Homo sapiens: one gene and its partners. The protein of the gene in region 1 purifies or fractionates together with the protein of each later gene. This does not show direct contact. Each region holds a gene or a part of one and is shown in the gene's direction. Other genes may lie near its edges.

What was found.
Region 2: the proteins of EPN3 (region 1) and PHGDH purify together in Homo sapiens (affinity purification with mass spectrometry; 3 studies listed by BioGRID and IntAct, with this or other methods). This does not show direct contact.
Region 3: the proteins of EPN3 (region 1) and ARIH1 purify together in Homo sapiens (affinity purification with mass spectrometry; 3 studies listed by BioGRID and IntAct, with this or other methods). This does not show direct contact.
Region 4: the proteins of EPN3 (region 1) and CASP2 purify together in Homo sapiens (affinity purification with mass spectrometry; 3 studies listed by BioGRID and IntAct, with this or other methods). This does not show direct contact.

The regions. Positions count from the first base shown.
Region 1 is NC_000017.11:50,535,312-50,542,734, forward strand, and holds part of EPN3 (epsin-3), read left to right. Parts: intron 1-1,109; 5' UTR 1,110-1,245; coding exon 1,246-1,807; intron 1,808-1,982; exon of another isoform or gene 1,983-2,190; intron 2,191-2,615; exon of another isoform or gene 2,616-2,767; coding exon 2,768-2,886; intron 2,887-3,279; exon of another isoform or gene 3,280-3,443; intron 3,444-3,572; coding exon 3,573-3,653; intron 3,654-3,875; coding exon 3,876-4,004; intron 4,005-4,935; coding exon 4,936-5,023; intron 5,024-5,481; coding exon 5,482-5,751; intron 5,752-5,917; coding exon 5,918-6,022; intron 6,023-6,152; coding exon 6,153-6,383; intron 6,384-6,532; coding exon 6,533-6,846; 3' UTR 6,847-7,423.
Region 2 is NC_000001.11:119,728,544-119,735,966, forward strand, and holds part of PHGDH (D-3-phosphoglycerate dehydrogenase), read left to right. Parts: exon of another isoform or gene 1-1,090; intron 1,091-1,396; exon of another isoform or gene 1,397-1,856; intron 1,857-6,090; coding exon 6,091-6,223; intron 6,224-6,751; coding exon 6,752-6,900; intron 6,901-7,423. UniProt on the Homo sapiens protein: Catalyzes the reversible oxidation of 3-phospho-D-glycerate to 3-phosphonooxypyruvate, the first step of the phosphorylated L-serine biosynthesis pathway.
Region 3 is NC_000015.10:72,575,235-72,582,657, forward strand, and holds part of ARIH1 (E3 ubiquitin-protein ligase ARIH1), read left to right. Parts: intron 1-5,496; coding exon 5,497-5,757; intron 5,758-6,840; coding exon 6,841-6,953; intron 6,954-7,423. UniProt on the Homo sapiens protein: E3 ubiquitin-protein ligase, which catalyzes ubiquitination of target proteins together with ubiquitin-conjugating enzyme E2 UBE2L3.
Region 4 is NC_000007.14:143,291,351-143,298,773, forward strand, and holds part of CASP2 (caspase-2 isoform 1 preproprotein), read left to right. Parts: intron 1-189; coding exon 190-340; intron 341-949; coding exon 950-1,117; intron 1,118-1,266; coding exon 1,267-1,348; intron 1,349-2,879; coding exon 2,880-2,974; intron 2,975-3,246; coding exon 3,247-3,423; intron 3,424-7,166; exon of another isoform or gene 7,167-7,423. UniProt on the Homo sapiens protein: Is a regulator of the cascade of caspases responsible for apoptosis execution. Might function by either activating some proteins required for cell death or inactivating proteins necessary for cell survival.

The DNA.
Region 1 (7,423 bases):
TTAGTCTTCTGGAGTCCTGGATGGTAGTCCAGGCTCTGCCACTTACGTGCCATATGATGCAGGCAGGTCCCATCCCCTCTCTGGCCTCAACACTTCCATGTGTACGTGGGGGTGGCATGCAGGAGTGTTGGCAGTGGCCAGAACTCTGAGGGGCAGTCTTCCTCAAACGATACTTGCTCTCTTGCCTTCTGGCCCAGGTCATAGCATTTCTTCTGAGCCGCCCTCCCCTGACTTGCTGGTTCACTCCTCCTTACTCTTCCCTTGTGATCTTGGATCTCAGCTCTGTCACCACCTCCTCTAGGAAGTCTCCCCTGATTTTCCTGGCTTGGGTCTTCCTGTGCGGCTCTGCACTCCCACACTGGACTGTGATTTTCTGTACCCTCTCAACTGAACGTGGGTGGACCAAGGCGTGTGTTCTGTGCCTGGCATGGTGCCTGGCTCAGAAAAGGCCTCCGGGAAATAGGTGTTGAATGCATCAAACTACAAAAATTAACAATATGAGAAAAGTGAGCTGAGGAGCTAGGAAGGATAGGTCTTAAGCTAGATCTCAGCAGAAACAGAGGCAGTGGCCGAGCAGAAGCAAGGCAAGCGGGCATTCCTGGAATCCTGTTAGCGTTCCCCCATGAGGCCATGCACTCTTAGGTGGGGCTTCCTGGGGTCATCTTGGTTCCCCATGCAGCAGCTCTGTGATCTCGGACAAGTCACTTAATATTACAGGGTCTCGCTCTGTTGCCCAGTGGCCTGACCATGGCTCACTGCAGCCTCCAACTACTGGCCTCAAGTGATCCTCTTGCCTTGGCCTCCTGAAGTCCTGGAATTACAGGCGTGAGCCACTGCACCGGGCCCATTTAATACTCTGAGCCCCACCTTTCCCATCTGTGGATGGAGGTAATGATAATAGCATCTTTGGGGTGTGGCTGTGAAGATAGATAGATGAGCATGCAAAGCTCCAAGTGCCTGCTGAATTGTAAGTGAAATAAGAACGTGTGCCGCTGAAGGCTGTCCCTGGAGGCAGGGACACTCTGGCCAGGCCTCATTTAGTTGGTCAGTGGCTGAGTGACCCATGAGGTAGGCCTCTGCCCCTGAGTTCCTGGCCCTCTCTTCCTCAGCCCCATGTGGAACCCAAGGATGCAGCTGCTCTGCTAACACGGCAGCCCATCCTTCAAGACTGTGACCTCGCCACAGTGGCCCTCAGCCCTCCACCTCCGGCGGGGGCGAGGGCCACCCACCTCCAAGTCTCCAGCCATGACGACCTCCGCACTCCGGCGCCAGGTGAAGAACATCGTGCACAACTACTCCGAGGCAGAAATCAAGGTGCGCGAGGCCACCAGCAATGACCCCTGGGGCCCCCCTAGTTCGCTCATGTCCGAGATCGCTGACCTGACCTTCAACACAGTGGCCTTCACCGAAGTCATGGGCATGCTGTGGCGGCGGCTCAATGACAGCGGCAAGAACTGGCGGCACGTGTACAAGGCTCTAACATTGCTGGACTACCTGCTCAAGACGGGCTCCGAGCGGGTGGCCCACCAGTGCCGCGAGAACCTCTACACCATCCAGACACTCAAGGACTTCCAGTACATCGACCGCGACGGCAAGGACCAGGGCGTCAACGTGCGCGAGAAGGTCAAGCAGGTGATGGCCCTGCTCAAGGATGAGGAGCGGCTGCGGCAGGAGCGAACCCACGCCCTCAAGACCAAGGAGCGCATGGCACTGGAGGGCATCGGCATTGGCAGTGGGCAGCTGGGCTTCAGCCGCCGCTACGGCGAGGACTACAGCCGCTCCCGGGGCTCCCCGTCCTCCTACAACTGTGAGTAAGCCCCGGTGTGTGGCTGGGATGGGGAGGTGGCCCGACTTCCATTCCTGGCTCTGCAATCCAAGCCATGGTTCATAATACCTACCTCCGAGGGGTGTTATGAAGATTCAGACATAAGGAATGTAACACGCAAGGCGCAACACCCGGCACATAGGAGGTGCTCAACAAGTTAGCTCAGATAATAACGTTGTTATAGATTCATTATCATTCGTTAGCTGCCTGATAGGATGGCGCGATAGTGGAAGCATGGGTTTGGAGTCAGATAGCATTCTATATTCTGCTTCCTCCAAGCTGTGTGACCTGGGCAACCAGTTCTCTGAACCTCAGTTTCCTCATCTGTACAGTGGGGATAAGCTCACCTACCTCCATTGTTTGATCTGAGAATGAAATGAGACCAGGTTCAGGAACGTCCTCTACCCTGCACCCAGACACATGGCATTCCCCTTCATCCCCCTACCTGAGGGCAGCGGCTAGACAGTCCCTGACTCTCCTGCCCCCAGTCATGGGGGCTTCCAGGATCTGAGGAATACTCAGAATGGCCCGCCTTCCATAAAGCCCTTGACAGTTTGCTGAGGGCTTTGAGGTTGTGACCTCGTTGGACTAGAACCTCCTATCCTTGCACCTCCCTTGCCCCCAAGCCAGGACAGGGTCCATCTGGAAGTCCAAGAGCTGGAGTCAGGGCACCTGGGTTCAAGTCCTGCTTCAGGAACCTGGTCAGGGGCCCTAAGTGCCGCCTGTGCATCTGCTAAGGAGGGACTGGAGCCGCCCCTCCATCCGGGATGGGTTGGGATGGGGAACTTACAGAGTGCCTGGCACACTGCTTGGCCCACGGGGGCCTCAACGGCCGTTGTTCCCCTCCTCTCAGTTCTCTTGAGCCTCAGCTTCCTGGCAGGCAGAGGGGTGTGGGAGCCGATGGGTAATCGTGTGGTCACAGAGACATGATGGTCATTGCAGCCTCCTCTTCGTCACCCCGCTATACCTCCGACCTGGAGCAGGCCCGGCCTCAGACGTCAGGGGAAGAGGAACTGCAGCTGCAGCTGGCCCTCGCCATGAGCCGTGAGGAGGCAGAGAAGGTGAGGCCATGCAGCCCCACTGCGGTGGGGAGGGGATGGGCTAGGGGGAGAGAGTGCCTGGGAGCCCCTTGGCCTTGACTCAGGCTCTGTCACCCAAAGCCCCAGTCCTGTGCCCAAGGACAGCACAAGACCCATTATCTCTGTCGGTTTGTCGCAGGCAGGGACTGCCTCCCTGCCTCCAGTCCTCTCCACTGGGCCTGGAAAGGGTGGCGAGTGTACAATTAGGGGCACATGCTATGTCTTGGGGTGCCTGCTACCACCTCATGGTGGAGTGGGTGAGTGTGCTCAGACATATTCCTAGGAGACACTGGGATATGCTTCCCACCCCCGCCCACCAGCTATCCTTTTGGGGAGACAAGGACAGGCCCCCGATATCATCATCTTTGCCATTACCTCTGTGGATCCAGGAAGACCAGGCAGGAAGCAGCTGGGCCTCACACAGGAGGGCCTGAGGAACTCTCAGAGGATTCAGAAGCGAAAGATCAGTCTTCCTGACCTTTAAACTGCATTTCAGATGCAGGCAGGGAGAAGGCCACGCCCACCCTGCTGACTGAGCGGCAAATGGCCCATGCACACTGAGGGTGGGCATTAGTGTCTCCATCCCCATGACCCAGGCAGGCCTATACTGCCCTTCTGGTCCCAAGGTGGGGGTACAGGGCCAAGTTTACCCCTCTCTTCCTCCGCAGCCTGTCCCCCCAGCCTCCCACAGGGACGAGGACCTGCAGCTGCAGCTGGCTCTGCGCCTGAGCCGGCAGGAGCACGAGAAGGTAGTGGGCCGAGCCCGCTGGGCTGCCGGTGCTGCTGCTGCTGCTGGTGGAGGTGCTTCAGGGCACTAACAGCCTCCTCCCGCTGTACCCGGTGGCCCTGCTGCTCCTAACCTCTCAGCTGCCTCCCACCCTGCACTCTCTCGACTCCAGCCTCTGGTGCACAGGTCCCCGGATTCCCGCCTGAGCTGCTCATGCTCCTAACTCTTTCTGTGCCTTCTGCAGGAGGTGAGGTCCTGGCAGGGTGATGGCTCCCCCATGGCCAATGGTGCAGGGGCCGTGGTCCACCATCAGCGGGACAGAGAGCCTGAGAGAGAAGAGAGAAAGGAGGAGGAGAAGCTAAAAACCAGCCAGGTAGGGAGTGGGCTGCGGTGCTTGGGATGGACAGGGCCTAAGAGATGGACTGAGTATTTGTAAAGAGAGAGCAGAGCAGTGCCTGGCATATAGTAAGCACTGATGTGTTTATTCGATGAAATAGGGGTGGGGGTGTAGCAGCCCTAGTCCCACATTGCATGGGCTGGTGACTGAGTTAACAGCAAAGTGGGATGCAAAAGGTTCCTGATTGGAGACCCCCGGATTCGGGTTCTGGATTTGCTGCCACTTACTCTATGACTTGGGGCATGTCACTGTCATGGCCTCAGTTTCCCCTTCTGCACAGTGTGCTTATTGGATAGTTCCAGCTCTGACATGCTAGGATTATGTGATACTGTCAATCAAGACTAGGGTTGGCCTAAGCACATGGTGCTGAAAACACCTCGGGCTCATGGACATATTTTCTCCGCATGGGGAGTGGGCAGCTGCTGAGTGCAAGGCTGCCCTCCAAAGCTGTCCATGCCACGCCCGGGTGCTGTGGTCTCCTTTCCGTCCATGTTCACTGTGGCCAGTTTCTCTTGGACACTGACCTAGGGAGGTAGGCTGGTTGAAAAACATCTGCCTTTGGCCTTCCTGCCCCTTTCTGCTGGCCTGGATTCTATCCCAGCTCTGCCTCTCCCTGGCTGTGTGACTTCAGGCAAACCCATTCCACCCTCTGTGCGCTGGCTGGCTCATCCATAAAATGGGTACATCATCTGCCCTACCTACCTCACAGGGTTGTTATGAAAATCAGGTACTCTGTGGATGAAGAAACATTATAAACTGTAAAGCACTGTGCAGAGGTGAGGGATCATGAATAGGTATCTGTGGAATGAATAAAGAGAATGAACTGGCATTAGCCTGACAGGTCAGGGCCTGCCCTCCCTCCAGGCCCCGCCCACTTCTGAGCCGCGGCTGCCTCTCCCCTCCACAGTCCTCCATCCTGGACTTGGCTGACATCTTCGTACCTGCCCTGGCCCCGCCCTCCACACACTGCTCTGCTGACCCATGGGACATCCCAGGTGGGCATGCAGGGCTGCAAGAGACTTCCAGGCTGGCCCAAGAGCCTCCTCCTTCCCAGCCACTTGCTGGGCCAAGCACCTCCTCCCAAAATCTGAGTGTCACCGGGCAAGTCACTCACCACCTTGAGCCTCCGCCGCCTGTGGGACAGGCTTTCGTAGTGAGGGCTATGGAGAATGTCTGAAGGGCCCAGCTCCTAGGAAACGCAGCAAAATGTTCTCTCGCTGCACTCACTTGCTCAGCACGCCTGGGAAGGTGGCCTGAGTCGCCCACACCTGCAGGTCCCAGTTCCTGGGGTCACTTGTCAAATAGGGGCTCCAGCCTGCTGGGTGGTCCTGAGGCTGCAGGCCATCTGTGACATGGATCTTCTGCCTCCCAACTTGGGCTGGGTAACTGGGAAGGGCCCTGGGCGAGGGATAAGGGTGGGCCTGGGATCATGTCTATGCTGTTCCCATTTCAGGTTTTAGGCCGAACACAGAGGCCAGTGGATCCTCCTGGGGGCCTTCTGCAGACCCCTGGTCTCCGATCCCCTCAGGAACCGTCCTGTCCCGAAGCCAGCCCTGGGATCTGACTCCCATGCTCTCCTCCTCTGAGCCCTGGGGCAGGACCCCAGTGCTGCCTGCTGGGCCCCCCACCACAGACCCCTGGGCCCTGAACTCTCCCCACCACAAACTCCCCAGCACTGGGGCTGACCCTTGGGGAGCCTCCCTGGAGACCTCCGACACACCTGGTAAGAAGAGGGCCAGAGAGTGTGAGTGAGGAGCTGGGGGACTTCCAGGCAGGGCCAAGGGGCAGCAGATACTGTTTGTGTTAGGAGGACAGCTTCTCTGGAAAGGGGTCAGACCAACACCTGCCCTTTTTGTCAACCCATCTCCTCTTCCTCTCTCTCTTCCGAGGTGGTGCCTCGACCTTTGACCCATTTGCCAAACCTCCAGAATCCACAGAGACCAAGGAGGGGCTGGAGCAGGCCCTGCCCTCTGGGAAGCCCAGCAGCCCTGTGGGTGAGCAGGGCAAGGGGATGGTGAGGCTCTGGGGAATGAGGGGCCCACCCCGAGCAGCCTCTGTCCTCTTCCTCCCACGTCGGGCGCCAATCCCTTTCCCCACCAATTAGCTCTAGCATTTCTATTCCAGAGCTGGACCTGTTTGGAGACCCCAGCCCCAGTTCCAAGCAAAATGGCACGAAGGAGCCAGATGCCCTGGACCTGGGCATACTAGGGGAAGCACTAACCCAGCCAAGCAAAGAGGCCCGAGCTTGCCGGACTCCCGAGTCCTTCCTGGGTCCCTCAGCTTCCTCCTTGGTCAACCTTGACTCGTTGGTCAAGGCACCCCAGGTTGCAAAGACCCGGAACCCCTTCCTGACAGGTAAGATATGCCCTTGTCCCTCAACCCAGGGGCTCCTGCTTTCAGAGCCTAGCCTCCGCCGGAGGAGCCCACTCTTCTTCCCAACTTCCACGACCTCCCGGTGTAGGGCTCTGAACCCCGGGTCACTCAAAGCCACTCTCGTTCTGCAGGTCTCAGCGCTCCGTCCCCCACCAACCCGTTCGGCGCGGGCGAGCCGGGCAGGCCGACGCTAAACCAGATGCGCACCGGCTCGCCGGCGCTGGGCCTGGCAGGCGGGCCTGTGGGGGCGCCCCTGGGCTCCATGACCTACAGCGCCTCTCTGCCCCTCCCGCTCAGCAGCGTGCCAGCTGGCTTGACCCTCCCCGCCTCGGTTAGCGTCTTCCCGCAGGCCGGAGCCTTCGCACCGCAGCCGCTGCTGCCCACGCCGAGCTCAGCCGGGCCGCGGCCCCCGCCCCCGCAGACCGGCACCAACCCCTTCCTCTGAGCCCCGCCCCGTCCCATACCGGCCTGCGCCTGCGCCGGACGCTCCGCGGCCCCGCCTCCGGACCCGGGGCTGGGCGGGGCGCCGGTGCTAGTGGAACGCCGAGCCAGTGGCGGCTGGTATCCCGCGGCGGCTCTGGAAGCTGGACGCGGACCACGGCCCGGGAGCTAGAAACTGAACGCCCGCATAATAAAGACTGGAACCCTCGTTCTCAGCTCTCACCAAGTGGACTTTTTGCGGGGTGTGGCGGCCGGGTCTCGACCACAGCGTGGATCACCGGCTGTTTAGGAAACTGCAGCTGCACAACGTGGGGTGCAAAACTGCCCCGCTTCCTTTACAGCTCTTCTCAACCCTCACCTCCATCCCCCGTCACCCAGGCACCTTCGCTTCCAGATGCTGCCAGGCTGTCACTCAATTCGGTCATTTCATTCATTTATCACACATGGGCACTGGGGTTGGGCTAACAGCAAGAGACAATAGGCCTTTGTTCCTATTTATTGGGTACTGCTTACGTGCTAAGCAGATCAGTTTATTTAATGCTTGCAACGACTCTCTGAGGTAGAAAATATTGTTAATTCCG
Region 2 (7,423 bases), on another chromosome or scaffold:
CTACTCTGGGAGCTCAGTAGGCTTCTGGCTACTCCCTTAGCCTGATTGCAACCCTCTGGTTGCCATCAGTAGCAGTGCCACCCACTTGGGCTAATCCAGGAGACCTTGCAAATGAGAGAGGCAATTCAGCTAAGAGAGGGGATCTGCAGGGCTTCCCAGATAGGCCAAAGAGATGAACCCACTAAGGCTACTATGGGACATCTCTCTGTTCACTTTCTGTTTTAGGGAATTACAGGGATTATGGGGTCAAACTGCAGCCAGGAAGTCTTTAAACATTAGGAGATCAGTTTTGACAACCAGATCATGTCAAATCTAGAAAAGTTTACATAGAGCTGCTATGGAACTCTCCCTTTTTCTACATCCCTCCTACCTTCTTAGAGTTAGAAGGGATCTTAATAGATTAACCCTTAATTTTACATTGACATCTAGAATTTGTAAGCTTATGCCTAAGGACTCATAGCAAATGGACAGTAGCCTAGAGCCTGGTGAGCATCCCATTGTACACATTGAATATTATCCTCTCCCTCCTGCCTCCACTCCCCATCTTATTTATTTAAGTCAGCCAGATATCTTTCCTAAGCCTCTGCACTGAGAAGGGCCAGGTGTATTCTTGATCCCTGGACTCCTGAGAGAGGCAGATGTAGCCCAGCAGGATCATTGATCATGTAAACAAACCACAGCCTTGCCCTCTGTGCAGGGATGGTGGGATGCCATAAGCCACAAAGAGCACTCCCTCCTCCATCCTCTTTTGTAAGGGATCAAGGGTCAAGGTTTAGTCCATGGAGAATTTTGATATAAAAGGCAGAGGTCAGGAGTTAAGTAAAACTAAGAGCACTCATAGCCAAATAGGTGAGCATTTCATTGATGAAGCAGTAACTGGGAGACAGGCTCCAGACCAGTGGCCGTTCCAAGGCTCCTGCCCCCTTCCCCAGGGGGTCCTCTTCCCCATGACTCCCCTTCCCCAGGCTTCCTTCTCCGTGGCACCACTACACATCAATATTCCTGGCAATATTCTTCATCATGGAGACTTCGGCAGCGACTTCAACCAGATGAAAAGCCCCACCTCATTCCTGAATGATTGAGGTGCTAGGTAAGCTTGTCTGTCCATCTGGCACTGCCCAACTCTCTACCCTGGGATGCTTCCAAGAGGTGCATGGGTACCTGGGACCTTGAGCATCAGTGTCAGGAAATGGCTGACACCTCTCGTGCATGTGTTTGATTGAAAGAGATGTCTACGGCCTGCTCATTTCAGTGTTAATCTGTGCCTCAGAGCAGGTCACCCACTGAATGTTTTATTCCCATTCCCAGCATGGTGTGGAGGGTGCCAGTGCCTTCACTTTGCATTTCTTCTGTCCAGATGTCTCTGGAGGGTCATTCTTAACTGTCTTGCTTCCAGAACATGCTCTTTGTAAACCCCTGAAACATGGCTTGGATCATTCCGTCTCCCACCTCAGCCCCTCCGGAGCTGCCTGGACCTCATCATTCCGGAGAGTCTAAGTGGCCTCTTCTCGTGCTCAGCTGCTTACCTCAACCACGTCATTATCATACTTTTGAGTCTGGATGAATTTTGTCTTAGGGCGGAGAGCTCATCAGTTCTACCGGTCTTGGAGAACAAGATTTTCTAAAGGGAAAGGAAGATTCTTGAACATATTGTGAAAGAGATGTATAAGCACCCAGACAGGAAATGAGGATAAGTGTTTATTAAACACAAGTTATTTCATACTAGCCTCATCCTCTTTTTGGAAACCATTATTAAACTGGTAGAGTATGGAAATCCCTAGATGTCAGATACCCGGACTATTTAAAGTTATGTTTTAATCATGTAATAAAGGAATGCATTCTCATATAAATTAAAACTTGGACAAGGCTATACTTGATTACCATCTGAACCCTAGTCTCCTCACGGTAAACATCAGTTTAGCATGTCATCCGAGACTTTTCTATGCATTTGCACAGAATGCATACAGTTCCATGCCTGTGGATGGATTCTTTGGCTGCAAACAATAGAATATTGTTTGTGATGTTAAGAAAAAAACATGTTTATCTCAGAACAACTAAATCTAGCATATTTTTAAACAGTTGTGTGGAATTTTATTGTGCAGATAAATTGCTTTTTATTTGGCCATTCTCTCAATGATGGGTATTTAGATTGTGTATAGATATGGACTTTGGTAAGACATCTTTCATGATTCCCTCGGGGTTCGGATGGAGCCCCTTGAGCTTGGTGCTATTGAAGGGATTAGTGCTTGGTGCTGTTGTGGAATGGGCCACCTCAGTTTGGAGGGAGATAGTATGCAATAGTGCTCCACCTTGCCCACCATTCTCATCAACAGCCTGAACCATGTGTCATTTGTGGATGGCAGGAAGCAAGGAGAGGTAGTTAATACTTAAGGGTGCAGAATCAGGTCCAAAAAGACATATGAAGGCTAGAATGGTTGGGCACCCTCACAGGAAATTTAGCTAGAATACATTTCTGCACCCTACTTGTGGGTCCAAAAAGCAGCTAGACAAGTTTTAGATGTAGAAGCATTTGTCAAAAGCTTTTCTGGGGGAGCAGGGCTTTGGTTTACAAAAGAGCAGTGTGGTTGTCAGTGGCATAGCTGATAGAAAAGGTAACCTGACATTTGGCAGCATTAAAAGAAGTATGGCTTCCGGAGCAAGGGAGGTGACATTCCTCACACTGTGGCCTGACCTGCAGCCTACCTGTGGTCTGAGTCATACAGGTCTTAACGCTCTATACTGTTGTGTCTGCGAGAGACTTTTTCTCAATAGTGTTGCTGAATGACAGGTCGTGACCTCAGAGACTCAGCTCATTCATGCTGGTGTGTTCCTTAGAATGTGTTAAGAGGCACAAACCAATCAAGAAGCGAGCCTTGTGCTTTATGATCAAGGTTTTCCTTGAGGGAACAGACAAGCATCTCTTAACAGTTTCTTTGTAGCCAGCGTTGTGATGAATCCAACTTTAGCCCAGAGGGTTGGATGTTGAACCTGAGGCACCAGTTATCACCGATTTTTTCAGGTCCAGCTAATGTTTGCTGAGGTCTACTGTGTCGGTTCCTGTGCTTGAAATGACTCTGCAGGGTCAGAATTATTATCCCAGGTTTACAGATAAGGAAACTGAGGCCCAGGAAGGTTCTATGATATGCTGAAGATAATGCAACTATGAACTGGTGAATTTCGGCTCAGCCTTCCAGGCTGGCATTCTTTGCCCAGTACCACTTAACTTTATTCATGATCCATTTTAGGTAAACAGTCCCTGTGCCATGCCGGTATGCTTAGCTATTCCAAAGACAGATACTCTCCAGGATGGGCAGCTCCTATCTCAGTGTGTTACCTGGAATGCTTACTGCCCAGAGCAGTGATTCTCAAACTCAAGAGCCTCGGGTTCTGGCAAGGTGCCTTAGGGACACAGGTGGGAGCAAGGAGGGGCCCAGGGAGACAGCAGGTGGTGGCACATTGAGCCTTTACCTCTGCAGCTTTGAATTGACCTATTTTTATATTTGGGTCTCTGTTTAAGATTTCATTGCCGTGGTAGGGAGAGTTCCAATGCTAAACTAAAAATTCAGCTGTGGGGCAGAGAGAGCACGTGACGGTGAGGGTTCTTCTTCAGAGCCTCTTTAACTGGGAGGCCTCCTTGCTCTCCTCTTTGCTCTGCTGAGCCAGCAAGGCCCTGCAGCCAGCATACCAGCCTCTCAGGGCTGTCTTCTGTGACCTCAGGCAGGTAGGAGCCACCAGCTGCCCTGGAGTCCTGCTTAGAAAGTGAGGCTTCCTCTGTTGCCTCAACATCAGGAGTCTGCCCTGGGGCTGGGATTGAGGTGAGGGAACCCCTTCATGTTTCTCCCCAAGGCTTCTCTCCGGGAGTAGTCTTTGAATGGTGGGTACCCAGAGGTGCTCCAATGTCTGTATATTAGGACATCTGACCCTTTCCAGGACACACCAGGACCCTGACAGGCACGTGTGTCCTGGGCCTGTTGTCACCCTTTCCATCCCCTCAGTGTTGTCTCCTAGTGTCGGAACCCCAACCCCCAGCTGAGTTCAGCTCTTCTCTGCCCTGGTTATCTCAAATGGAAAATGAGAACAGAGGTTTGCTCAGCCAGATTCCTTCCCTGCAGTCATCTGCAGATAAATGAGATACTCTCTGTGAAAGAAGGAAGCTGAGTCAGTGCTTCGCTCACCCCTGAGGAAGATGCTCACCTGCTCCTCTCCCCAACCCCCTCCCTCCAGCCCCAGTCACCTGTCTGTGGAGGGGGCCAGGTTCAGCCTGCAGGGTCCTTCCTCCTGCCAGCCCCCAGGTTGTTCTTGGCTCCTGAGCATGGAGTAGACGTCAGTCAGGCTGGACCTTGTGATCTCTATTGGTGTTCCCTTCCTCTCCCCACTCCATATGAGAAAAAAAAATACATCTGGATTAGAGATGAACAGGGCCATTGTTCTGGCCGGCCTCAGGGCCAGCAGACGAAGAAGACTTGTGACAACGATGGCAGGGATCCCATCTCCTCGCCTGGACACTTTCTCCTCCCCACCAGAAATGAGTAGGTTACAGCCGAGGGGAGCAGCAGTGTCTGAAAAAGACCACCAGCGTTCTGAGCTGGAGGTTCTTATAGGGCGTGGGAGAGGCAGCATCTTTCCCCAAAACCTGCCTGATGGTTGGTGTGGGGCCACTTGGCTTTCCTTATTCCACAAGGCTAATGATGAAAAAAGGGATCCAGAGGCTTCACCTTAATCATAACCATTTTAGCTTCTGCCCTAGAATTACTGAATTTGAAGTCCTCTTTCCTATTACGTTCTTTTTTATTTTGTTTTATTTTTTTTTTTTTTTCTGAGACATCTTGTTCTGTCACCCAGGCTGGAGTGCAGTGGCACAATCTTGGCTCACTGCAGCCTCAACCTCCTAGGCCCAAGTGATCCTCCTGCCTCAGCCTTCTGGGTGGCACAGGTGCATGCCACCAAACTTGGCTAGTTTTTTAAATTTTTTGTAGGGGGGGGGGTCTGACTATGTTTCTCCAGCTAGTCTCTGACTCCTGGGGTCAAATGATCCTCCTGCCTCAGCCTCCCAAAGTGCTGGGATTATAGGTGTGAGCAATGGCACCCATCTTTCCCATTATATTCTAAAGTATCTATACTGTATCCCTAATTTCAAAAGTAATTTATGAATAATGTAGTAGAAAACTTGAAAGCACAGGAAAGCAAAAAGGAGAAAAATAATTCCACTACCCAGAGACAACCGCTGTTAAAGTACTATGCTGTGTATTCTTTGTTTTTGTCTAATCCTGGGCTCACTCTTTACATTCTGTCTCGGGGTTAAGGGGGATTTCTCTTCAAATAATTCCCAGTGATTGAATGTGAGAGTGAGAGATGGCTGCAATCATCTGCCCAGCTCCTTTATTTAGGGTTGAGGACCCAGGTCCAGGGGAACTGACCTGTACCTTTCCACACAGTGGGCAGTGACTGGGGGAGGACACAGGTCAGGCTTCCTGATTTAGAGGGCATGCAGTCTTGCTCCCACTCTGGGTCCTGCCTTGTACCCCTGTTGTCCTCCTCCTTCGCTTCTGCTCACTCTGTTTTAGTACCTGATGCACCTGTTTCCTGGACTGGACCCTCCAGCTGCAGCTGCCATTTCTCCTTCTCCCTTTCCTGGCTGTCCGCTCCCTACATGACTGCCCTCCCTCCCTCAGGACTCCCTGCTTTCTAAGGACTTCCAAGCTCCACCTTGTCCAGACCTATATGAGCTATTGTTGCATCTGTGTGTGATCACAGCATGGAGGCAGACGCACCTTCTTTTGAGCTCTGGCTGTGCCCCTCCTCATTGTGGAAGCCCTGCTTCCCTCAGCTCTCAAGCAGACAAGAACAGTCCCAGCATCATTGTGTGGTCATGAGAATTAATTAAGCTGATCATGGTACTTAGTATATGGTAAATAGTACTTAGTATGTGGAACATGGTACTTAGTGTATGGTAAATTAACTGGAGAATTAATTAAGCTGAGCATGGTAGTTAGTATATGGTAAATGCTCAAAAAATGTTTGCCATTCTTAATAATAACAATACTAATAATTAAGAATGACACTTCCTCCCTCTCTCTTGCTTCCAACCAGACTATAGGGTATGACCCCATCATTTCCCCAGAGGTCTCGGCCTCCTTTGGTGTTCAGCAGCTGCCCCTGGAGGAGATCTGGCCTCTCTGTGATTTCATCACTGTGCACACTCCTCTCCTGCCCTCCACGACAGGTAGGTGTGTCCTTACATTGTGGATTGGTCACAGAAGCCACAGACCAGTTAACAAATGGGCCCTCCATCTGGGCCTTCCCCAGACAGTGGTAACCAGCTGTGGGGAGAGGTCCACCTGGGTCCTGCAGAGGCTGGTGTTTTGTTAGACACCCCTACGTTGGATAGGGGAGGGTGAGCCAGCTAGAAGTGCTTGGGGTCTAGGTAAGCTGGGCACAGGGACAACCAGTGACCCCCATGGATGCTTTCTGCAGCCCCTGCAGGGCTTTCTGATTCCCAGACCCACTTGAAACAGTAATATCTCAAGAATTTCTAAGATGTTTCTAAACTGAGTCTGGCCCAGATCCATAACAGGGACTCCTGCCCCAGAGCATCTGAGGAGGAAGAGATGAGAGCAAAGAGGCTGCCGTCCAGCAGGAGAGAGGCTCTGGGAAAGAGCTGGCTCAAGGAAAGGGAAGACCTCTGGAAGCCAGGGATGAGCGTGGGGATCCTGGTGCTGCCCCAGCAGGAAGATGCTTCGCTTTCTTCCAGGCTTGCTGAATGACAACACCTTTGCCCAGTGCAAGAAGGGGGTGCGTGTGGTGAACTGTGCCCGTGGAGGGATCGTGGACGAAGGCGCCCTGCTCCGGGCCCTGCAGTCTGGCCAGTGTGCCGGGGCTGCACTGGACGTGTTTACGGAAGTAAGTGCCTGGCAGCCTCAGCGTCAGGAGGACGGGAGAGATAGGGAGCAGAGAGGCCCATGGCAGGGAAAGCCTGGCGTTTTACAGAAAGCCTCTAGCTTATTGTCTCTTTCATCCATGGTAAAAGGAGAAAACTGTGTTGCCAAAAACACACCTTTGTGGTTTGAGGAGTCCTTGCGGAGCCTGGTATGGAGGCAGCTATGTGGTTTTCTGCAAAACTCGGGCTTTAAAGGGGACCCAGTTCCTGGTTCCGGGCTTCTCAGACTGCTAACATATTGACAAAGATAAAGCCACAAATCAGTTCTGAAGTTGAGGGTCTGGAGCAGGAAGAGAGGGGGCTTTAGTGTATAGTTGAGGGACCCTGATGGAAATGCAGTCCCATTGCCAAGAAAATGTCCTTTTCAGTGTCCATGGGCATTCTTTTTCCCTTCTTCTCTTGCTGGGTGGACAGAAGCCCGAGGATACTGGCAGTATTCCCTCAGGGTCCTCGGGGTGGGCTGCTTTCCCAGCTGGAGCAGAGGCT
Region 3 (7,423 bases), on another chromosome or scaffold:
TTTCAGGTCGCTGATTACATTTCTCATTCCAGATTCTGGCATTTGATTGGAGAATTTGTCTTGATCAGGCTCAGTGGCTCACGCCTGCAATCCTAGCACTTTGGGATGCTGAGGCGAGAGGATTGAGTGCGGGAGTTTGAGATCAGACTGGGCAACAACTGAGACCCTGTCTCTACAAAAAATTTATTAAAAATTAGCCAGGTATGGTAGTGCACGCTGGCTGAGGTGGGAGGATCACTTGAGCCTGGGAAGACTTCAGTGAGCCATGGTTGTGCCACTGCACTCTAGCTCAAGCAACAGAGCAAGACCCTGTCTCCAAAAAAAAAAAAAAAAAAAAAAAAAGTCTTATTAGCAGTGATGGTATGGGTGTTCTTTTTTCATGTTGAATTTTAGTGAGAAGCAGTTTCAGAATTCTTAGATTAAGTCAAGTCCCATAACATCATACATGTCAATATGGTAAGGGAGGGTTTTCATTTCATTTGGGGAACTTGACAGGCTTGGAAATATTAGTACTTTAGGGGAAGATAAAATGCCAAGCAGATTTTCCACATATTTTCAGATTGGCATAATTTTCCTGTTCATAAGCATTGGTTTGATACTTACCTGACTCTTGAAATAACATGGCTGTGGTTTTGTTGTTTTTTCATTGAGATGAGGGTCTCGCAGTGGCATGATCATAGCTCACTGTAGCCTTGAACTCCTGGGCCCAAGTGGTCCTCCTGCCTCAACCTCTGCATTAGCTGGAACTAGAGGCAGCTTGAGGTGTGCACCACCGCGCCCAACTTGTGTTGGTTTTTTGAAGTGTTTCGTTGTATAATGCTGGATCATGTGGTTAGCTAATTATGTGGCTCAGAATTAGTATTTCTAAGCAAGGGACCAACCATAGGGCCAAGTAGTATCTGTTATGTAGGCTTTAAAACATGGGGAGAGAAAGAGGAGGTAAGGATAAAGGAAAAGAACATACGTGTGTTAGGAACCCCTTTGATAGGGGCCGGGCGCGGTGGCTCATGCCTGTAATCCCAGCACTTTGGGAGGCCGAGGCGGGCGGATCACAAGGTCAGGAGATGGAGACCATCCTGGCTAACACAGTGAAACCCCATCTCTACTAAAAATACAAAAAAATTAGCTGGGCGTGGTGGCGGGCACCTGTAGTCCCACCTACTCCAGAGGCTGAGGCAGGAGAATGGCATGAACCCGGGAGGTGGAGCTTGTGGTGAGCCGAGATTGTGCCACTGCACTCCAGCCTGGGTGACAGAGCAAGACTCTGTCTCAAAAAAAAAAAAAAAAAAAAAAAAACCCTTTGATAGTGGTTGCATTTAGTAAGCATTTATTAATGGTTTTCTGCAAATCAGGTATTGGAAATACTTTATCTTTTTAAAAGTCCATTCCCTCTAGAGATTTATGGTATAATGGTAGAGGCCTCATATGAATAATTATATATTATAATGTAATAATACAAAACAAATCTAAACTAGATACATTGTTGCTTTGATAACAATATACTTTACATATCTCTAAAGACAGACTCTCTTTACATAACTGTAATACCATTACAGTTGACTCTTGAACAATTCAGGGGTTAGGGACACTAACCCGCCCTACCTCCGCAATGGAAAATCCACATACCACTTTTGATTTTCCCAAAACTTACCTGTTTTAATAGCCTACTGATGACCAGAAGCCTTACCGATAACATAGTCAATTAACACATATTTTGTATGTTACATGTTTTATTATACTGTGTGCTTTTTTTTTTTTCTTTTTTTGAGACGGAGTTTGCTCTTGTTACTCAGGCTGGAGTGCCAGTGGCAGGTCTCAGCTCCCTGCAACCTCCACCTCCCGAATTCAAGCGATTCTCCTGCCTCAGCCTCCCAAGTAGTTGGGATTACAGACATGCGCCACCATGCCTGGCTAATTTTTTTGTATTTTTAGTAGAGACGGGATTTCATCATGTTGGTCAGGCTGGTCTTGAACTCCTGACCTCAGGTGATCCACCCACCTCAGCCTCCCATAATGCTGGGATTACAGGCGTGAGCCACTCACTGTGCCTGGCATATACTGTGTTCTTAACAATGAAGTATGCTAGGAAAAAAGTTATTTTAAAAAATTGTGAAGAAGAGAAAATGTGTTTACTTTTTATTAAGTAGAAGTGGATCAGCCGGGCCCAGTGGCTCACGCCTGTAATCTCAGCACTTTGGGAAGCTGAGGTGGGCAGATTGCCTGAGGTTGGGAGTTTGAGACCAGCCTGGCCAACATGGTGAAACCCTATCTCTACTAAAAATACAAAAATTAGCTGGGCGTGGTAGCAGGCGCCTGTAATCCGAGCTACTTGGGAAGATAAGGCAGGAGAATCACTTGAACCCTGGAGGTGGAGGTCGTGGAGAGCCGAGATCGCACCATTGCACTCTAGCCTGTGCGACAGAGTGAGACTCCATCTCAAAACAAAAAACAAACAAACAAAAAAACGGATCATCATAAAGGTCTTCAAGTTGAGTAGGCTGAGGAGGAAAGAAAATACAGGAGGGCTTGGTTTTGCTATATCTCAGGTGGCAGAGGTAGAGGAAGTCGAATGGGATTCAGGAGATGCAGGCACACTTGGTGTAACTTTACAGGAAAACCTTACGAACCGTTTTGCATTTTCATTTCTCTAAAAATGTTTCTGTATAGTAACAATCCTCTTTCCATTTGCTTTAGTTTCAGTGCTGGTATAATAGAAGGGTCCATTCATAAAGGAAGTCCAAAGCAGTCTTAAGTAATCAGAACCCTTCTGCCAAATTGTCTAATGTCAATTTATTTTCTGGCACTGCTTCTTTAGTGTCTTCTTCCTCATCATCTGGCACTGGTTTGGAAGCAGCTCATCTCCATCAAGTGGTCTTTTAATTCCTCTGGTGTGGTGTCTGTTAGCTAACCCTTCACCTTCCACGTTTTCTTTGCCATATCCACAGTCTCTTTCGTGATTTCCTTGATGGGCTCTGTTGTAGATACTGCGAAGTCACGCGCAACATCTGGACACAGTTTTCTCTACCAGGAGTTTATTGTTTCAGTCTTGATGATGCCATGGTTTTTTCTATAACAACGATGACATCTTCAGTGGTGCTCTCCTTCCAGACTTCCATGATGTTCTGTGGGGGTTCTCTTCGATAGCATTGACAGTCCCTTCCAGAGTACCGTGTGCATCTTTACGTTTGTTTACATTTCTCTCAATGTGAATGGTACCATATACGGTCTGTAAGAGTTTGTGTGCATAAGTTTTGATAAATCTCAACTTTTTATTAATAGATTTATGTATATTTTATCGTAGTAAATCATAAGATAGGCTACATATGTCTTATGCATTCATGACAACTCTTTTTCTTAATTTTGGTTTGTCCGCAAGTGTTTTCAAATTGTTGGCAAACCTCCAAAAAATATTTCAATATATTTATTGAAAAAAATCCACATATAAAGTAGACTTACAGTTTAATCCTGTGTTGTTCAAGGGTCAACTGTATATGTTTTAAAGCAATACTCTGTTGGTATCAACTATCTATTGTTCAAATATCCCCAATTATCTTAAATTTTGCTTTTTTTTGTTTTTTGGTGTTTTGTTTTTTTTTTTCAGAGGTAGAGTCTCGTTCTCTCCCCAAGGCTGGAGTGCAGTGGTGCAACTCGGCAATTCTCCTGCCTCAGCCTCCCAAGTAGATGGGATTACAGGCACATGCCACCACGCCCAGCTAATTTTTTGTATTTTAGTAGATACAGGGTTTCACTGTGTTGCCCAGGCTGGCTCAAACTCCTGAGCTCAGGCAATCCACCCGCCTCAGCCTCCCAAAGTGCTAGGATTACAGGCATGAGCCACCACACCCAGCCTATCTTAAATTTTCTTTTATAGTTGGTTCAAATTGGGATCCACATAGGTCCACAAATTGGATTTAATTGATATCTCTTGAGTCTCCTCTACCTGTTGTTCCTTCTCTTCCCCCCTCCTTGCTTTTTTTTCTTTGTTGAAGAAACTAGATCGTGTTGTCCTGTAGAGTTTCCCACATTATGGATTTTGCTGGTTGCAACTGCATGGTGTCATTTAATAGGTTCTTCTATCCCTGCATTTTCTGCACTGGTGATTAATTCAAGAAACTTGATCAAATTCAGATTCAGTGGTTGGGGGGGGAGCCCAGAATACTTAATTGATTATACTTTCTATTGTATTATATCAGGAGTTACATGGTATGTAGTTGCCACTGTAGTTTTCTACTTAAAAATATCTCTGCTTTTTGCTTGTTTTACATCTTGTGGCATACTGTAGAACAGTGCCATCCAGTAGAACATTTTTGTAATGATGTAAATGTTCTTTATCACCAGTGTCTAATTTGGTAGTCACTAAGCACATGTGACTATTGAGCGATGAGGAACTGAATTTTTAGTTTCTTAAATTGAATTTTAAGTAGTCAGGTGTGGCTTGTGGCTACTGTATTGGAAAGTACAATTAATAGGACATTTTTCAAGAGTATTAAATAACAAAAGTAGCAGTAGATGTCTATTCCTGATTTTAGCCTAGATCACAGTACTGTTTCATCAGTAAATCAGCTTTTTAAATTATTAATATTTTTAATGGACAAATCATAATTATACACATTTATGGAGTACAGTGGAATGTTTTGAAATATGTAAACAATGCAATGATTAAATCAAACTAATTGTTGTATTGCCTTGCCTTAACATTTTTATGGTGAGACATTTGAAATGATACTTATTTTGAAATATATATTATTATTGACTATATTCACCCTGTTGTGCAATAAATCTCAAAACTTACTCATCCAGTCTATCTGAAACTTTGTACTCTTTGGTCACCAACTCCCCATTCCCTCCCTTCCTACCCCTCTATCCCCGCAAGCCTCTGGTAACCGTCATTATACTCTGTATGTCTGTGAGTTCAACTTTTTTAGTTTCTACATATAAGCGAGATCATGTAGTATTTCTTTTCTGTGCCTGGCTTATTTCACTTAGTGTAATGTCCTCCAGGTTCATCCATGTTGTCACAACAGAATTCCTTTTTTGAGGCTGAGTACTCGTGTGTGTGTGTACATACATGACGTTTTCTTTCTGTGTTCATCCATTGATGGACACTTTACATGGATTCCATGTCTTGGCTATTGTGAATAATGCTGTAGTGAATGTGAGAGTACAGAGATACCTTTGACATACTGATTTCAATTCCTTTTCATATATACACAGTAGTGGGATTGCTGGATTCTGTGGTGGTTTTGTTTTCAGTTTTTTAAGGAACCTCCCCATACCATTTTCCATAATGGCTATACTAATTTACATTCCCATCAACAGTGTATCAAGAGTCTCCTTCTTTCTTTATCTTTGCCAAGACTTATCTTTCATCTTTTTGATAAAAACCATTCTAACAGGTGTGAAGTGAGACTTCATTATGGTTTTAATTTGATAATCAGCTTTTATGTACAGTTTATGTGTTATAATTATATCACCCAATTTTTCTTAATGGGACAGCGATCTAGGGCAGCCCTGCAGAGGTACCTGTTCTACTGTAATCGCTATATGAACCACATGCAGAGCCTGCGCTTTGAGCACAAACTATATGCTCAGGTGAAACAGAAAATGGAGGAGATGCAGCAGCACAACATGTCCTGGATTGAGGTGCAGTTCCTGAAGAAGGCAGTTGATGTCCTCTGCCAGTGTCGTGCCACACTCATGTACACTTATGTCTTCGCTTTCTACCTCAAAAAGAATAACCAGTCCATTATCTTTGAGGTAGGAGTAGTTCTGGGTGAGGAAAAAGCCCACCTTGTATCATAGGTCTACCTGATCTTTCATATATAAGATACAGAGTTTTCAGGGTTCTTGTTTGTTCAGAACATGTAGGTAGACGAATGTATTTATTACAAAGATACAAGAAATTTCTATTTCTTGTCCTAAATTATATTCAGATCGATGTGGTTTAGCCAGCTAGTGATTAGGTATGCAGGTTCTGGAGTCAGCCCTAGATTTTAATCTTTACTTCATTATGTTTTAGCTCTGTTGATTTGGAGCAAATTCCTTAACCTCTTATTTGTCCATTTTAAAGTGAGGATAGTACCTTTCTAGGTTGTTATGAGGTTTAAGTGAGACAATTTGTGTTTTATGTGAGACAATTTGTGTTAATTGCTATACGGCACCTGGAACATCATAAGTTCTCAATAAAAGCCTTTATTCAGGCTAAACTAACCCTGCAATATTAGAAGTTAATGTGGTGGTTATCTTTAGTGGAGAAATAATGACTAAAAAGCCAGCTTTTAGCAGTAAAGGTTTTCTCAAGTAAAGATGTTCATTTAAAATTGATGCATAAAACATTGATATCTGTATATGACTAGACAATAAGACTGACTAGCAGATGGGACTTCAGTTGGGTAACAGGTACAAAACTAGCCATAGTGGTAAAGGATGATACAATTTGAATCTTCCATACAGTGTTTTCTTATAAGAAATAAGTATAGCCAGATGTAAGCAATAATAGGTTTCTATTTTTTCTCATTTACCTTTGAGTTTTCAGCAAAGAGCAGCTCTCAGAACGAGAAGATTCCAAAAGACATTTTAAATCCTTTCAAATGGTCTTCAGTATTCTTCCAAAAGTAATGGGTGAAATCTTTCGTTCTTTTAACATTTAAAAAATTGTTCTGGAAAAGAACAAACAAGTTATTAGAGATGAAAGCCCATAGAGCTTTACAGGTGCAGTTAAACCACCTATGAAAGTTACAGAATGAGTGTTGAGAGCAGTCTGTAGTCAACAAAACAGTGAAAATGGTTTATCTTTTAGCTTTATTTTGAAGCCAAAATTTACTTTCATTCTTCTTACAGAATAACCAAGCAGATCTAGAGAATGCCACAGAGGTGCTCTCGGGCTACCTTGAACGAGATATTTCCCAAGATTCTCTGCAGGATATAAAGCAGAAAGTACAAGACAAGTACAGGTAATTTTTTTTTAAGCTGTTGAATAAAACTTTCTGCCAGTGATGATCCTTACTGGTAAAGTTCAGTGATAGTGAAACTGGGTTTAGCATATCCAGCAACTGAGCTTTTGCCATGTTTCTCACAGATTGCTTCTGTCCGTTGGGCACTAAATTGCAGGTAATAGTATTGGTGAAGCATACATAGAGAAGGAATTCAGCCATTTATTCTATTGGCTAATTCCACTTCTGTTCAGTTATTTAGTTGCTACCTTGCAAGGAAGAAAGAATCCAAAAAGGCCAAGTGGCCTTTAGGATGAGAGTGAGAATTGAATGTTGGTCTTAGCCTGAGAATCCTATGTATGGGTCATGGCTATTCACAAATGAGCTATGGAAACTTACTTTTTAGAGTTTTTATTACATATATATATATATATTTTTTTAATCTAAGGAGATACTTGTCCTAGGAGTCGATTTTTCAAGATGTGCCGCCT
Region 4 (7,423 bases), on another chromosome or scaffold:
ACATTATTTTCTTATGATCAATGTGTTCCTGCTTAGTACATCTTTGCTTTAACCAGATTTAAGAAATATGCATAATCTTGGTTATTGTAAGTCTTATTCTTTTTGTTCTTCCTATTCATGCCTCTTCCACTCCACTCTTCTGTGTCAAATTGTGACTTGACAGCCTTTCCTTCTACCGTTTATCTGTAGGATATTGGGAGTGTGTGGCATGCATCCTCATCATCAGGAAACTCTAAAAAAGAACCGAGTGGTGCTAGCCAAACAGCTGTTGTTGAGCGAATTGTTAGAACATCTTCTGGAGAAGGACATCATCACCTTGGAAATGAGGGAGCTCATCCAGGTATCTGGAGGCAAAAGAGAGAAGATAAATTGATCATGGGGTGGGAATAGAGCATGACAAAATATGGAAAGGGTGTCGTATCTTTCTTCCTTTTTTTTTTTTTTTTTTTTGAGACAGAGTCTCTGTCTCCCAGGCTGGAGTACAATGGCGCGATCTTGGCTCACTGCAGCCTCTGCCTCCCAGGTTCAAGTGATTCTCCTGCCTCAGCCTCCCAAGTAGCTGGGACTACAGGCAGGTGCCACCATGCCTGGCTAATTTTTTGGATTTTTAGTAGAGACAGGGTTTCACTGTGTTAGCCAGGAGGGTGTCGATCTCCTGACCTCATGATCCACCTGCCTCGGCCTCCCAAAGTGCTGGGATTACAGGTGTGAGCCACCACACCCAGCTGGATGTTGTACCTTTCTAAAGAAATGGAAATGCCCTTCTACCGTAGAGCATTTGAGAGAAATGATATATAACTCAAGAATAACAGAAAGGACTTCACCCATACATACACTTTTCCTGTAAAAAGAATTCTTGGATGAGGACACTACTAGGAAGCTCATGTGGAGAAATAGAATTATAGCTAGAGAAGTAAATATGATTTCATGTTTTATTCTTGTGTCTTAGGCCAAAGTGGGCAGTTTCAGCCAGAATGTGGAACTCCTCAACTTGCTGCCTAAGAGGGGTCCCCAAGCTTTTGATGCCTTCTGTGAAGCACTGAGGGAGACCAAGCAAGGCCACCTGGAGGATATGTTGCTCACCACCCTTTCTGGGCTTCAGCATGTACTCCCACCGGTATGAAGCTTTAGTAATATGGGGTGTTGGGAAGGGTTAGTTTGACTGGAAAGGAATTTGTAAGTCAGAGTGAGGGAGACTAGATTTTGTTGTATTTGGACCGGACCACTTCCCTAAGGTCTGTCATCATGAGTTTTGATTTCTTACAGTTGAGCTGTGACTACGACTTGAGTCTCCCTTTTCCGGTGTGTGAGTCCTGTCCCCTTTACAAGAAGCTCCGCCTGTCGACAGGTGAGAATTGATGGACTAAAAGGGGTCCCAGGCCAGGTGCCACGGCTTACGCCTATAATCCCAGCACTTTGCGGGGCCAAGGCGGGTGGATCACCTGAGGTCAGGAGTTCGAGACCAGCCTGGCCAACATGGTGAAACCCCGTCTCTACTAAAAATATAAAAACTAGCTGGGCATGGTGGTGGGTGCCTGTAATCCCAGCTACTCGGGAAGCTGGGGCAGGAGAATTGCTAGAACCCAGGAGACGGAGGTTGCAGTGAGCCAACACGGTGCCACCGCACTCCAGCCTTGCCAACAGAGTGAGACTCAGTCTCAAAAAATAAAATAAAATAAAATAAAAAGGAGGGGGGTGTCCCAGATTGACTTCCCCTTTCTTGTCTGGTATCTGGCTTTGTCCTAACATGAGCCCTTTTTTTTGTTTTTTTTTTTTTTTGTTGTGTTTTTTTTCAGAAATAGGGTCTTGTTCTGTCACCCAGGCTGGAATGCAGTGACACCACCATAGCTCACTGCAGCGTTGAACTCCTGGGTTGAAGGGCTCCTCCTGCCTCAGCCTCCCAAGTACCTGGGATTACAGGTGCATGCCACCACACCTAGCTCATTTTTAAATTTTTTGTAGAGAAGGAGTCTCACTTTGTTACCCAGGCTGGTGTCAAACTTCTGGCCTCAAATGATCCTTCCGCCTTGGCCTCCCAAAGTGCTGGGATTATAGGCGTAAGCCACCATGCCCAGCTGAGACATAGTTTATATTGGGAACAGTTGTCAGTAAATTTGTTAAGGGCTAGTAGGACAGTTTATGCAGGAGTTTGTGGTTTTTTGTTTTTTTTTTTTCTTGTGATGGAGTCTTGCTCTGTCGTCCAGGCTGTAGTGCAATGGTGCAGTCTCGGCTCACTGCAAACTCTGCCTCCTGGGTTCAAGTGATTCTCCTGCCTCAGCCTCCTGAGTAGCTAGGATTACAGGTGCGTGCCACCATACCCAGCTAATTTTTTGTGTTTTTAGTAAGAGATGGGGTTTCACCATCTCCTGACCTCGTGATCTGCCTGCCTCGGCCTCCCAAAGTGTTGGGATTACAGGCATGAGTCACTGCGCCCGGCCCAGGCAAGGTGTTATTAATAGTTGGTCCATTTCCCTTCCACCCCAGATAACAGTTTTTGTGATAATTGGGCCTTTGAGTAGCATGTATGGGCAGGAAGTTCATGCTCAATTGGCCTCTAAAAAGCTGAATAAGAAAAGACTACATTTGGGGCCACCAGCCTGCTGATGGAGCATCCTAGTGATTGGAACGAGGCTTTTATCAGCTAGCCCATTCGGTCATTCAGCCAGTTGAGCATATGCTTCATGCAGGCTATGTGCAGAGAATCCTTTAGTGAGCTAAAACTAAGAGTCTCTGCCCTCATGAAGCTTACAGGTTTGGGTAGTGAGTGAGACCAATATTTATCACAACCCAGTTGCAAGAGATGTCTGAAGTTACAATGACATATTAAGATTGATGGTTAAGTTATATACTAGTTTTTTGGTTTTCTGTCTATACCACAGATACTGTGGAACACTCCCTAGACAATAAAGATGGTCCTGTCTGCCTTCAGGTGAAGCCTTGCACTCCTGAATTTTATCAAACACACTTCCAGCTGGTGAGTTTTTGCATAATGACAAGAGGAAGAGAGTTGGGAAATTAGACACCCTTCCTGGGAACCTGAACTTAGTTTGCATGTACATTTCCTTTCTGCCTTATTAGTCAGAAAGTTGTTACTGGTTAAATGCCTTCTGTGAGCATTTGTCTATTTTTACCTGCTGGAGGTTAAGAAGAAAAATACGATGTCTTTGTTTTCTTGAAATGTCTAATCTAGCCGAGGAATCATCTGTTATCAAGACGCTCATGGTCTAACTGGCCTCTCCTCCACAGGCATATAGGTTGCAGTCTCGGCCTCGTGGCCTAGCACTGGTGTTGAGCAATGTGCACTTCACTGGAGAGAAAGAACTGGAATTTCGCTCTGGAGGGGATGTGGACCACAGTACTCTAGTCACCCTCTTCAAGCTTTTGGGCTATGACGTCCATGTTCTATGTGACCAGACTGCACAGGTACCTGAGGTGGGAAAAATTGACATGTAAATTAGAGGACTGAACAACACTTTGGGACCAGAGACATCGTTTGTTCCTGTGCCTGCTGGGATATGTCTTAAAAGTTGGTTTATTCTACTTACATTTTTACTCACTCTGTTCTGCCTCTCACCTTGCATTCTAGTAAGAAAGAATTAGGGCCGGCCAGCCATTTTAGTGTTGACATCTCAGGTTGTGGTTTCATAAAGTAATAATAGTCCACAGTTGGTGTCTCACTTTTTTTTTTTTTTTTAAAGACAGAGTTTAGCTCTGTCACCCAGGCTGGAGTGCAATGGCACGATCTCGGCTCACTGCAACCTCTGCCTACCAGGTTCAAGCGATTCTCCTGCCTCAGCTTCCTGAGTAGCTGGAACTGCAGGCGCATGCAACCATACCTGGCTTATTGTTGTATTTTTAGTAGAGACGGGGTTTTGCCATGTTGGCCAGGCTGGTCTCAAACTCCTGACCTCAGGTGATCCGTCCCCCTCGGCCTCCCAAAGTGCTGGGATTATAGGCATGAGCTACGGCACCTGGCTGGGAAAGTATTCTTAACATTTGTGTAATCACAAGTCATAGGGTAGATTGTTTGTGGACCAGATTTCTAGAAATTGTAAACATTTTCATTATGGGCTGTTCGTCATTAACCTCAGTTACTGTACTGCACAACTGACTTTGTGACCTTTAGGGTTTCTATTTTGCAATCAATAATGGCCTATTTGTAGATTCATATTCACTCTTTATTTTGATTCCAGAATAGTAGAACTTTCTTCAACTTGCTTTGAGGTTGTCAGTGGTGAAATTAAAATTGCTAGGAGATTCACTTTGATCTGTTGGGATAGAGGATCTTTGTTTTCCATTCAGCATTGTCTGTAGTCTTCATTTCTCTTTCTTAGCTGCCCTCCTTCTGTGAGAGTAATTATGTATTTACTATATTTTTGGCAAGGCCAGTTTCATCCACAGGTACCTGGGTGTTGTCCTTTACATGCTATTTTTGCCAGCTTCCCCCTTGTAGCATATGCAATGTAGTTAAATCCACCCTTGCTTCAAAGCCATGGCAGCAACAGCTGCTTCAGTCATCAAGTATTCAGGTAGTTTATATGCTTTCCTGAGAAGTCTGCTGGGCATAAAGGGGCAAAGGGCAGGGTACCAGCCATAATTCCTACAGAAGGTCACTTAACAAAATGTGCAGTGTGTGTGTTTTCTTAGAGGTTTTGGTCTAGCCATGTCTTTTACTAGAAATCTATTATGTCATGGTTTTTCAAGTTGTATGCAGCTGATAAAGGATCTTACATGTCTAATAGTTAAAGATAAAATACTGAGTCACTAAGTCAACTATATATACTGCTGTTTTCTCAGAGACTGTCAGATTTGGTGAGTTTATGAGCTCACTTCATAAATAGCATTTCCATTTATGGTAAGCCTGATGCATATTCAGTGACCTATTGGATTCTAATTCTTTGGTTGAATTGCTCTGTAACTGGAATTGCAGTAGAGTTGAACTTCAAGCACCTTATAATGGGGGACTATGTGAGCTGCCACAGATTTTAAAGATCAGATGAGGGAGTTTTGACATCAGCATAAAAGGAAGTGTGTCCTCTTATATTCCTAACGACCAAACAAGATTAGAGAAAAAATCTTCTGTCATAGCTAAGAAGAAGAAGCGCCTAGGTAGATATGATCAGAAGGATAAGTGGAGGAGGCAGAACTTAAGCTGGCCTTGAAGGATAGAAGTTACTGAAGCAGAGAGGAGTGGTGAAGCCACCCTAGGCAGGGAGAACAGTATGTGGACAAGAAATGTGTGTGTTATAAACCAGGTAGTTGCAATGGGTGTCATAATTTGGTACACTGGGCATCTGCACAGAATGCTCTCTTCCTGGTGGGATCTCCCTAGAGAGTCAACTCGTTTATCATATAGCTATTTGGCAAGCAAAGAAACAGAACCAAAAAAAAAAAAAAGATCCTTTTTTCTTTCCCTATCAAATCTTTCTTACTTAAGAGAGGAATTCCATTTAAAAACAGGAAATAGTATAATTAGTCTTAGAGACTCCTCTTCCCCTGATAGTGCTGCAGTGAACATGGGTATTCTCACTGCCCAGATGTTTTCACTTTTCTCTTTGTTATTAAGTTTTTATTGCATCTACTTCATGAGGTTACTAGTTCTAGAATTATGATTTACCCTATGTTAGGAAACGTACTCTTCAAAGTGGAAATTTCCTTTTACCATGTGGTATTGTTTTTTTAGCTTGCATTTGGGTCACAAACTGCTTTGAAAATGTAAGGACAAGCTATGGGTTATCCCTGGAAAATGCAGCTGCCCATATAATTTAGCATATAATTTCAGAGGGTTCACAAGTTACTCTCTTCACATGTCCCCCAACCCCTAGCCAAAAATACACTTAGGAGTTAAGAACCCTGCTATTTATAGAAGTACTGTAATTTTATCAAAAACAAATCTGCAGATCCTATTTTAAGCTATGCTACTTGTAGAAAAATTCCTCCAAATGTCTAATCCCCATTTATTGAATGGTTTAGTCTTACTAAGTTTGGTTACAAAGTGCGTGTATTCTTTTTTTGGACATTGTTTTCTATTTACTGACCTAATCTCACTAAATTCAAAATGCTCGTGATTCGGTGCCCAGGTATATAATTTTTGTTTTCTTTTTTTTTATTTTGAGATGGAGTTTCACTTTTGTTGCCCAGGCTAGAGTGCAATGGCGCGATCTGGGCTCATTGCAACCTCTGCCTCCCAGGTTCAAGCAATTCTCCTGTCTCAGCCTCCTGAGTAGCTGGGATTACAGGCGCATGCCACCACGCCCGGCTAATTTTTGTATTTTTAGTAGAGACAGGGTTTCATCACATTGGTCAGGCTGGTCTCAAACTCCTGACCTCAGGTGATCCACCCGCCTCGGCCTCCCGAAGTGCTGGGATTACAGGCGTGAGCCACCGCGCCCGGCCTTTGTTTTCTTCTTTGAGCAAAATTAACTTCTTTAACTATTAAATGTTAAATTCTATTAGCATCAGCTCCAGAGGAACATTCACAGTTATGTATTCTCTTGAAATTATATATTCTTGAAAGAATTTTTTGATTATCTGTCATTACCTTAAGATTTCTATTATTATGGTTTGCTTCTACTTAGAAAATACAGATACTTTTCAACAACACCAGTCTCTTTATTTCTAGTTATATTGCAGACTTTCAAATATTTTATGTAATTGCATCTCAATTATCTACAAACAGAAGTATTCCGAACAGATCAATTAGTAGCTCTCAAACTTTAACATATCACAGTGTCCTGGAGGGCTTGTTAAAACACATTTTGCTGGAGCCCAAGATTTCACGTTTCTTCCAAGTTCCTGGGTGATGCTGCTGTTGCTGCTTTAGGGGCCACTCTGAGAACTACTGCAATATGTTATATTATAGAAGTGTGCTTTTTATTTTGGCAGTGTGTGTGATTAAATATATGTGTGTTTTAACTCTTCCACCCAGATAACTTACTTATTTTCATTACATTTTATTCAAGTTTATAATAAAATGAACTTGTTTTCTTTCTGCCCATCTCAGAAGACCCAGACATCGTGAATTATAGAGGGAGGCATAGGTTTAAACATGTGTGCCCAATTATTATGCTCTTTAGGTACACAGTATAACCTTCTGATGGATGGACCAAATGCTTAAGGTAGTGCTCTTCATGTATCGCAACTTAGTGCAAGATAAACAAGATTCTCCAGGCATGGTGGCACATGCCTATGGTCCCAGCTACTCTAGAGGCTGAGGCAAGAAGATTCCTTGAGCCCAGGAGTTCTAGGCTGTAGTGTGCTATGCTGATCAGGTGTCCAAACTAAGTTCATCATCAATATGGTAACCTCCTGGGAGTGGCGGACCACCAGGTTGCCTAAGGAGGGGTGTACCAGCCCAGGTCAGAAATGGAGCAGGTGAAAACTCCTGTGCTGATCAGTAGTGATCTTACACCTGTAAATAGTC